2 separate regions of the Homo sapiens genome follow, and region 2 is linked to region 1. Evidence: fine-mapped expression QTL. A gene starts in region 1. The other region holds a variant in brackets. All regions are shown on one strand. Distances are from middle to middle. Region 1 holds the start of HNRNPLL (heterogeneous nuclear ribonucleoprotein L like). Region 2 overlaps GALM (galactose mutarotase).

What was found. PIP is the estimated chance that this variant, and not a neighbour inherited with it, causes the effect.
Region 2: its variant is the best candidate, but not a certain one, in a credible set for the expression of HNRNPLL in blood mononuclear cells (TOPMed, PIP 0.77).

The regions. Positions count from the first base shown.
Region 1 is chr2:38,601,150-38,605,538 of GRCh38, forward strand. HNRNPLL (heterogeneous nuclear ribonucleoprotein L like) reads right to left here and starts at 1,779. Exons shown (of 13, transcript NM_138394.4): 1 at 1,289-1,779. The coding sequence starts at 1,477. RefSeq lists silencers at 1,499-1,598, 1,619-1,668, 1,889-1,958.
Region 2 is chr2:38,702,255-38,706,643 of GRCh38, forward strand. All of the region lies in intron 4 of GALM (galactose mutarotase), which reads left to right. The region is part of intron 1 of LOC124905993 (a long non-coding RNA gene); the gene reads right to left. Among named protein-coding and RNA genes, the nearest start is that of GALM, 38 kb to the left of the region's middle. The variant G/A (reference allele first, on the strand shown) is at 1,757.

The DNA of each region.
Region 1 (4,389 bases):
GAATATTTCAAATAGCTCGGCACAAAAATCTAAAGTAATAGCTAACACCGTAACAAGACTGAGAGAAAAAGTTCCTTTTTTAAATGTGTTGCAAAGTTTGCTCTCACATCCTGGTAACTGGAAACTGCAACGCTGGGTGACTGACCAGCCTTTTTTTTTATTATTTAAAAATTCAAACGGCTATAAAGGGCTTCTAATGTGCGTCTTATTTTTAAAAGGTAAGGTAAAAACCCTTTTAACCTAATAGTAGGATATATGTGTACAGTTTCGTAATTCTGTTAAAGTTTGCAGAATTAATCACAATTCATGTGTTAAATGTTTAAATAACATCTAAGTCATTAAAACCGCTTAAGTGCACCAAAAAAGGGCAATAACGTTTGCTCCGCTTTGTTTCCTTAAAGTCTCCATCCAACTGAAGCTAACTACTTGCTGTGGACAAAATGATCACATTCCTTCTGCCTCCCCCTAACATTTCTGGTAAGAGAAAGACCTGGCTCTAGGAATGTGTGTTTAATGCAACCCTGAGCTCACTTCATCCTTTCATGGGGCAAATGTGGAATAAATTACCAATGAAAAACTTTAGTAATTTTAAGATTTGTTTTACTTGAAGGTAGGGGTGTACCAACAGCTGCCAACACTTCTGTTGAAGTGTTGTAACCGAAGAGGTAAAAAGTGTACTGAGTAATCCACAAAATTGGGTAGAGCAAAGGATGCACGCCATGCTTATAAAGAGTTTAATTTTAAAATTTTTTAAATTAAACCTTCAAGGGAACTAGCATGTGAACGCCAAGGCATAATCTGTTATTTAATTACGGGTCTCCATAGGACCGAGGCGGAGAGAGCTCCCGGTAGAACCGACGCAACCATCCCGGGATGGTGACCAACGCGCGGCTGCTGCGGGCAGAGGGACTGAAGAGAACCGGTGGTCCCGACGCTGGCCCCGAGCCCGAGGAGTTAAACTAACAAAGAGCTCCCCGAGCCGCGAAACCCCCCAGAGCGGAAGCGACGCCTCCCCGCCGCCGCCGCCGCGCCGCGACCCTCCCCAAGTTCAGGGCCCGGCAGTGGACTCGCTGCGGGGCCTGCGGCCAGGACGGCGCCGGGTTCGCAGTCGGGATGCGGGAAACAGGTAGAGGCCAGAATACGAGCCCCAAAGAGAAGAGTGGGCGCTTCCCCAAACGGGTCGGCGCAGCGGAAAAGGCTAACTGAAGCAAGCGGGAGGCCCCGCACCGAGGCCCTGCTTCCCGGGGAGCAGCCAGGCACAGCGGACAGGGGGGCCGCGCTTTGTTACCGGCTGAGAGAAGCTCCGGCCGCCGCCGCCGCCATCGCCCCCGCCCCGGGGCGTCGCTTCCCGGCGGTTCTCGCCTTCCTCGGCCGAGTAGTCGATCTCCCCCTCCTCGGTCTTGAGACGCTTGGCCTGGCTCTCGTACTCCCGGTCCTCCTCGTACGTCTCCCTGGGGGAGGAAGAGGAGGAGGACATGGCGGCGGCCGGAGGGACCGGCTGGCAGGCGGGTGGGGGTGGCGGTGGGGCGCGCGCCTCGGATGCCGCCGGCCAGTCCTCGCCGCCGGCAGCGCCTCTTCTGCGAGGGTCTCCGCGGCCCGGCCGTCCGCGGGGACTGCGCGGCCAGGAGACTGGCGGCTGAGAAGCGCGGACGGACTGAGGGGGGCGCCCCGGGAGGAAGCTCTGGAGCGGCCGCTCCTCTCAATTACCGAGCCAACATTCAGCCTCTCCCTCCTCCTCCTCCGTCTCCGCTCCCTGCCCGGAGGAGCGAATCTAAGGATGGGGACGCAACCGTGGCTTCCGGTCTTCCCTCCTCCCCTAAGCCGCTCCCAGCCGCGCAGGCCGAGCCTCCGCCCCCGCCTTCGCGGCCGTCGCGCAGGATCGAATCCAGCCGCAGCCTGCGGGAAGCGCCCCCCCCGGCCCGGGTTCTGCTCCCTATTGGCAGGGGCGGGAAAGTCGACCGGGCTTCCCATTGGCTGTGAGGGCCGTTCGTCAAAAGCCGCCCGCTGCTCGACCTCACTTCTCTCCCCGCGCCTTCTGAACTCGCCGCGGTCCTGGGAGGCCCGGCGCGCAAGGCGCGCCGCCTGGGAGTAGTTGCGACCCGCAACCGTTGGCGCTATGCGGCTCCTACCCGAGGCCAGGCGTGGAGTGAACACGGACGAGCGACGAGAAGTGCGGAGAGGCTAGGGCTGCGGGTGTTAACCGCCCTGCCGCTAATTTAAATGCTTTTTATCACCTCTTAAAAAGAGAATGAGGAAAAAAACCTCTAAAATCCCTGCAGTCATACCCCCCGAAAAGCCCTAAAATTGCAGGCGATGAAGGGAGAAAACGGCTTGGAGCCATGAGAATGGTCTTTCCACTGTTTTGTGTGCAAAATCTGGTAGAAGTGGGCGGACCCTCCCGCCCCTAGCTGGGTGTTGGAGAACAGCTGTCAGCATTGACTGAAGGCTGCGAGGCGCGCGTCGGCAGGAGGCGCTGCACGCGGGCGCTCGTCGGTCTGATCGGTTATAACTCGTTTGTAACCTGGGCCCTTTACTGACTTGCCTGTCCCTGTAAGTCCCTGCTCCAGTTAAATATGTTTTAATCCTTCCATATAAAATCTCATCCTCCATCCCAATTCTTTCTCTTCTGGACAATGTATTTACTTCACTTGATCATTTATTGTCGAAAGATACAAAAGCCTTTCAAAGTTCTGTGATCACAGCTTGCTTCCTCTGTGGTGTCCTGAGGGCTTTTCCAAGATTTTAGTTGCTGCTCTCTTTTTGCAACAGGGCCCCTTATAACTCCCTCTTAAGATGTTCTGTTTTAAAAACTCTGTGAGCGCCTGAAGACAGGAACTGTGTGCAATTTTCATTTTCGCAAGCCCAGTTCCTGTGCGATCTCCAGCACAATTTAGGTGCTCAACAATGCTGAATGAGTAGTCCTTGGGAAATAAAGGTCCAGTGTATCTTTCAGGACAGAAACTGGCAAATCAAGGCAACCTAACTGCCCTCTGTCAGGTGCCTCTTGGAGGACTGCCTGAGATCAAGAGCCTCTTGTGTTTCTGTTGTCCTTGTCCCTCGGATGCTTTCCTAGATGTGGCTCTTCCTTTCCTAAGAGTGTAGATTGCTTCCTCCTCCAGCCTAGTTCTCTCCAAAGTTATTTCCTCCTCCAAAAAAGCTATTTTTATTTATTGCTGAGAGTGCTTTAACATAACACTTTTGTACTTTGTAAATTACACCGGCTGTCATTTTGGAATCTAATTGCAAGATTTTCCACACTATGCAGCTATAATCAAATGTGTGTGCGGCTGCAGGTATACATTGACAAAACAGAACTAAAAAAATTATAAATTTATTTTTTAAATTAAAATGGAAGTCGACAGAAGAAATAGCAAAAGAGTGGCAGAGCTGGCTGCGGATGAGAAAATGTCATTGGCAAAAAGCTCTGCAATGGTTTGGGAAAGTAAAATAGCAACAAGGGAAACAATGATACAATTCTGCTTAAAATATGTCCTATGGATTCATATGTCCCCTAACATATTCAGAATGCAGACATTACCTGGCCTTCAGAAAGCTGAAGATACCAAGGGTCAAAAAAAAGGTCTAACAAACCTACTTCACGTGTTATCTTTAGCATCCATTGTCCTTTTTATAGCAGTCTCAGTATCAAAGATCAGGAAAGGATGAGTGAATTAATAAACTTGATACAAAGGAAACTTCTTTGATGAGGTGAGATGGGCCATTCTCAAGATATTTTTAGTTTGCTCAAATTAAAAGAGAAGAGCTGAGAGCTTAAAACAATTATTTTTTAGGAGAAAGAAAACAATAGAATATTATGTGAAATAATTGAGTGTGATGAGAAGCACTAAATATCTTTTTGTTAAGTATGAGCAACTACCTGTTAATTTTGTTTTATGTACATTTTCATATGCTAGGTGAATTTAGTTTGGTAAATTCTATTCACTCACAACTGGATTTACTAGGCCTTATACAAACTTTCCAAATATTTCTTGTGAAGATGCAAATATTTTAAATTCTCAAAGCCCTGCATTCAACCTATGGATTATACCACATTACAATGCAACTGTCACACCAATGGGTAAGGAAATCCAGCCTTGCCAAACCTAGGGCTGCTGTGCTCAGCGTTCACAAACAGCAGGTGGAATTCAATATGTACCAGTATTAAACTTTGTTCTTTTTGTAAGTAGCCCAGTTGAGTAAAAAAAAAAATATTGAGGGAGTAAAACTTAGAAAGCATTTTTAAAGGACACCAATCAGTTCGTTAACCATGGGTGAAATGCGAGCTTGTTGCAGATGAGTTGTTCAGACAGTGACAGTAGGTCCTTTGATAAGGAAAATACTAGCTAGCTCATCACCAGGGCATGAGGAGCTAAAGAGAGAGGACATAAA
Region 2 (4,389 bases), 100 kb after region 1:
ATAATCTCCAGGTTAATAAACCTCTTAGACGGCTCTCAGGCCTCCCCAAAACCATCTCTCATTTCACTGATCAAAAAAATAAAAATTTAAAAATTTTAAAACTTAAAAAAAAAATTGAACATTTCACTGGTCAAAAAACAAAAACAAAAATGATCTCCGAGCATGCCTCCCTCACACCCCACCCTGCTGTGCATCCCTTTCCCACCCCCAGCCTACAGAGACCACCCAATAACCTCTTCTTTGCTACATGACCCTTACCCTCCTTCTTCAAGAGTCATACTTTCTCCTTAGAAACTTTTCCCCCCACTTTCTGGAAACTGTAGATTCTTTCTTGCTTATGGTTTTTGTAATGACATCAGCCATTTAGAATTCATGATGTGGCCAGTCTCTGCTATCTGCCTCTCCACAGAGCTTGCTCAGATAATCCATCAGGATTTAGTCACAGATCCAAAGTAGGGAGCTAGAAGGGAGCTTCAGGCTTGGTCTCTTCGGGTTGAAGCTAGAAAACTAATCTATACTGAACACAAAAATGAAGCTGAGTAATAGCCAACCTATACATCCTAGGAATTAACTATTGCTTATTTTGCCCCCAGCCAGTCTCTCCACACTCCTCTCTCCTTTACATTTGTTTTAAACACTATATATATATATACACTTTATTTATATATATATACTTTTTATATATATATATATATAATATGTGTAATTTTTTTTTTAATTAGCTGGGCATGGTGGGGTGTGCCTGTGATCCTAGCTACTCAGGAGGCTGGGAGGCTGAGGTGGGATGATATGTGGGATTTTATATATATATATATATATATATATATATATATATATATTTTTTTTTTTTTTTTTTTTTTTTTTTTTTTTGAGACAGAGTTTTGCTCTTGTTGCCCAGGCTGGATTGCAATGGTGCGATCTCAGCTCACCGCAACCTCTGCCTCCCAGGTTCAAGCGATTCTCCTGCCTCAGCCTCCCAAGTAGGTGGGATTACAGGTATGCACCACCATGCCTGGCTAATTTTGTATTTTTAGTAGAGACAGGTTTCTTCATGTTGGTCAGGCTGGTCTCTAATTCCCGACCTCAGGTGATCCACCCACCTTGGCCTCTCAAAATGCTGGGATTACAAGCGTGAGCCACCGCACCCAGCCTTAAACACGGTATATTAGCCCAACACTGTGTGAGAACTGGGATTCAGAAAACCAAGATATAGGTCTCCGTTCTGCCATCCACTAGCTATGCTATGAGTCAGCCATGAAAATTCTCTGGGCCTCATTGACTGAATCTGTAAAATCTGACTTGATGAGGATTATATTCATTGAACTCTGAGGTCCTGTCCATTTCTTACACCCTGATTCAAAGACCGCACAGAATCTCTAACCCAGATATTCTTAACTAGGGTTCTTGTATGTCTGGGAAGATGATGAAAGAACTTCAAGGGGATCATGAGCTCTTTAAATTCTATATAAAATCCAAGGCTGGGCGTGGTGGCTCACGCTTGTAATCCCAGCACTTTGGGAGGCTGAGGTGGGCAGATTGCCTGAGATCAGGAGTTCGAGACCAGCCTGGGCAACATGTTGAAACCCCCTCTCTGTGAAAATACAAAAACAATCAGCTGGGTGTGGTGGCATGTGCCTATAGTCCCGGCTACTCAGGAGGCTGAGGCACAAGAATTGCTTTGAACCCAGGAGGCAGAGGTTGCAGTAAGCCAAGATCGTGCCACTGTGCTCCAACCTGGGAGACAGGGAGAAACGCT[G/A]TCTCAAAAAATAAATGAATAAATAAATAAATAAATAAAATAAAATAAAATAAAATAAATTCTATGTAAAATCCTTTGTGAACTTGCTGCATCACCTTGGCCCACAAAGGGGGTTTTCTTATCTTTTTTCCTCTTTCAAAGTAATGATAGTCTATGGTTGCCCTACTATGTATTCTCTTTTTATTATTTTATTATTTTTTTTTTTAGAGACAGGGTCTCACTCTGTTATCCAGGCTGGAGTGCAGTGGTGCAATTATAGCTCACTGCAGCCTTGGCCTCCTGGGCTCACGCGGTCATCCCACCTCAGCCTCCTGCATAGCTAGGATCACAGGCATGCCCCCATCATGCTCAGCTAATTTAAAAAATATTTTTTTTGAGGCTGGGCACAGTGGTTCATGCCTTTAATCCCAGAACTTTGAGAGGCTAAGGCGGGAGGATTGATTGGGTCCAGGAGTTCAAGAACCTGAGAAATACAGAGAGACCCCATTTTTACTACAAAAAAATAGAATCAAAAAATTAGCCAGGCCCAGTGGCATTCACCTGTAGTCCCAGCTACTTATGAGGCTGAGGCAGAGGATTGCTTGAACCCAGGGGTTCAAGGCAAATTGAGCTATGATTGGGCACTGCACTTAGCTTTGGTGACACGGCAAGACTCTGTCTCCATTAAAAAAAAAAAAAGTAAGGCTACAGATAAGAAAGTACTTGGACAACAGTAAAAAAGTTAAACTCATGACATTGGACCCTATGAAATGTGTTTACCCTAGAGCTGTTTATTGTATGATAGGTCCCTGCTAGATAGTATTCAAGGTTTAATGCAAAAACTCCAAGGACCTCTCTTGGTAGCAGTGGTATTCTTTAAGACGGCACATTACTGAATCCTTCCTGTAAAATGGTCACAAGATCATTTTTATGAGCCTCTAGAATAACTCCTGAAGCTACTCATGCTCCCTACTGGAAAACACATTACTGTTACAAGATTGGCAAACATGAACCAGCATGGTAGAAATCTGGCAGGAAGAAAGCTCAAAATTTAGCACTTGGCCAGGCGATGTGTAATTCCTGTGAAAATTGCAGGCTAACAGTCAGTGAATTTGTCAGAAGGGGAATTATTTGCTAGAGCTCTGACCACCACCCTTGGAGAGTTGATGGTTCACATCTACCCTTCCTCCAGCCCAGGTCTGGACAAGGGCTGCCTCTAGTTCATTCCTGGTGCATAGCCATCCTTAGTGGTCACTACATTCTGAAGGGGCTTAGTGGGACTGTGGGCCTTGGGCAACGGACCTGATGTTAACTCAAGTAAGTTCCCAGAGCAGATTTGTATTCAGTTCAGCTAACATTTATAGAGCACCTACTGATTGCTACATGCTGCCTGAGAGATAAAGAGGATGGAACACTGTCTCTGCCCTTGAGAAGCTCAGAGGGATGGGGAGAACCTAATGTGGTCAGAGCAGTTGTAGAGATAATGCCTGTGGGACTGAAGGAGTGTAGAAGCCAGGGTAGAAAGAGGATTCTCAAGATTGTCCTGAGCTGTGAGAAGCCTCTCAGTGTCTGTGAGGATCTAGCCACAAGGAGAGTGAGAGTACCAAAGCACAGAATGCAGGAGTGGTGATGACTGTTAAGCCAATAAGCCAAAGAGACAGTTGGGCAGAGCAAGGGCTAGGGTGCAAAATTTAAGGCAGCATCCACTCCCAGGGTCGTGCATGTGCAGGGTCAGCACCTGAGAGTGTGTGTCTTCTTAAATTTTGCACCCTAGGCACCTCATTTGCCCAGCCCTACAGTTGGGTACAGTCATGATTGTCTTTCTGGGCCATGCCGATGAGCTGGGATTTTTTTTATTTTTTATTTTTGACGGAGTCTTGTGCTGTCGCCCAGGCTGGAGTGCAGTGGCGCAACCTCCCCCTCCGGGTTCAGTGGTCCAACTTCCCGCTCTGGGTTCAAGCTATTCTCCCACCTCAGCCTCCCGAGTAGCAGGGATTACAGGCGTGCACCACCACATCAGGCTGATTTTTTTTTGAGACAAAGTCTCACTCTGTTGCCCAAGCTGGAGTGCAGTGACACGATTTTGGCTCACTGCAACCTCCGCCTCCCAGGTTCAAGCGATTCTCCTGCTTTACCTCCCAAGTAGCTGGGATTACACGTGCCCGCCACCCTGCCCAGCTAATTTTTGTATTTTTAGGAGAGACGAGGTTTCACGATGTTGGCCAGGCTGGTCTTGAACTCCTGACCTCGTGATCCACCCACCTCTGCCTCCCAAAGTGCTGGGATTACAGGCGTGAGCCACCACACCCAGCTGGAATTTTAACTTTAGATCATGGAGGGCTTTCAAGCATTCTAAGCTGGGAACTGACCTGTCAAGATTGGCATTTTAGAAATCTCACCCCAGGTTGGGCGTGGTGGCTCACACCTGTAATCCCAGCACTTTGGGAGGTCGAGGCAGGTGGATTGCTTGAGCCCAGGAGTTCGAGACCAGCCTGGGCAACATATCGAGACCCCATCTCTACAAAAAAAAAAAAAAAAAAATTAGCCAGGTGCGGTGGCCCACACCTGTAGTCTCAGCTACTCGGGAGGCTGAGGCTCAAGGATTCCTTGAGCCAGGGAGGTGGAGTTTGCAGTGAATTGTGATCCAGCCTGGG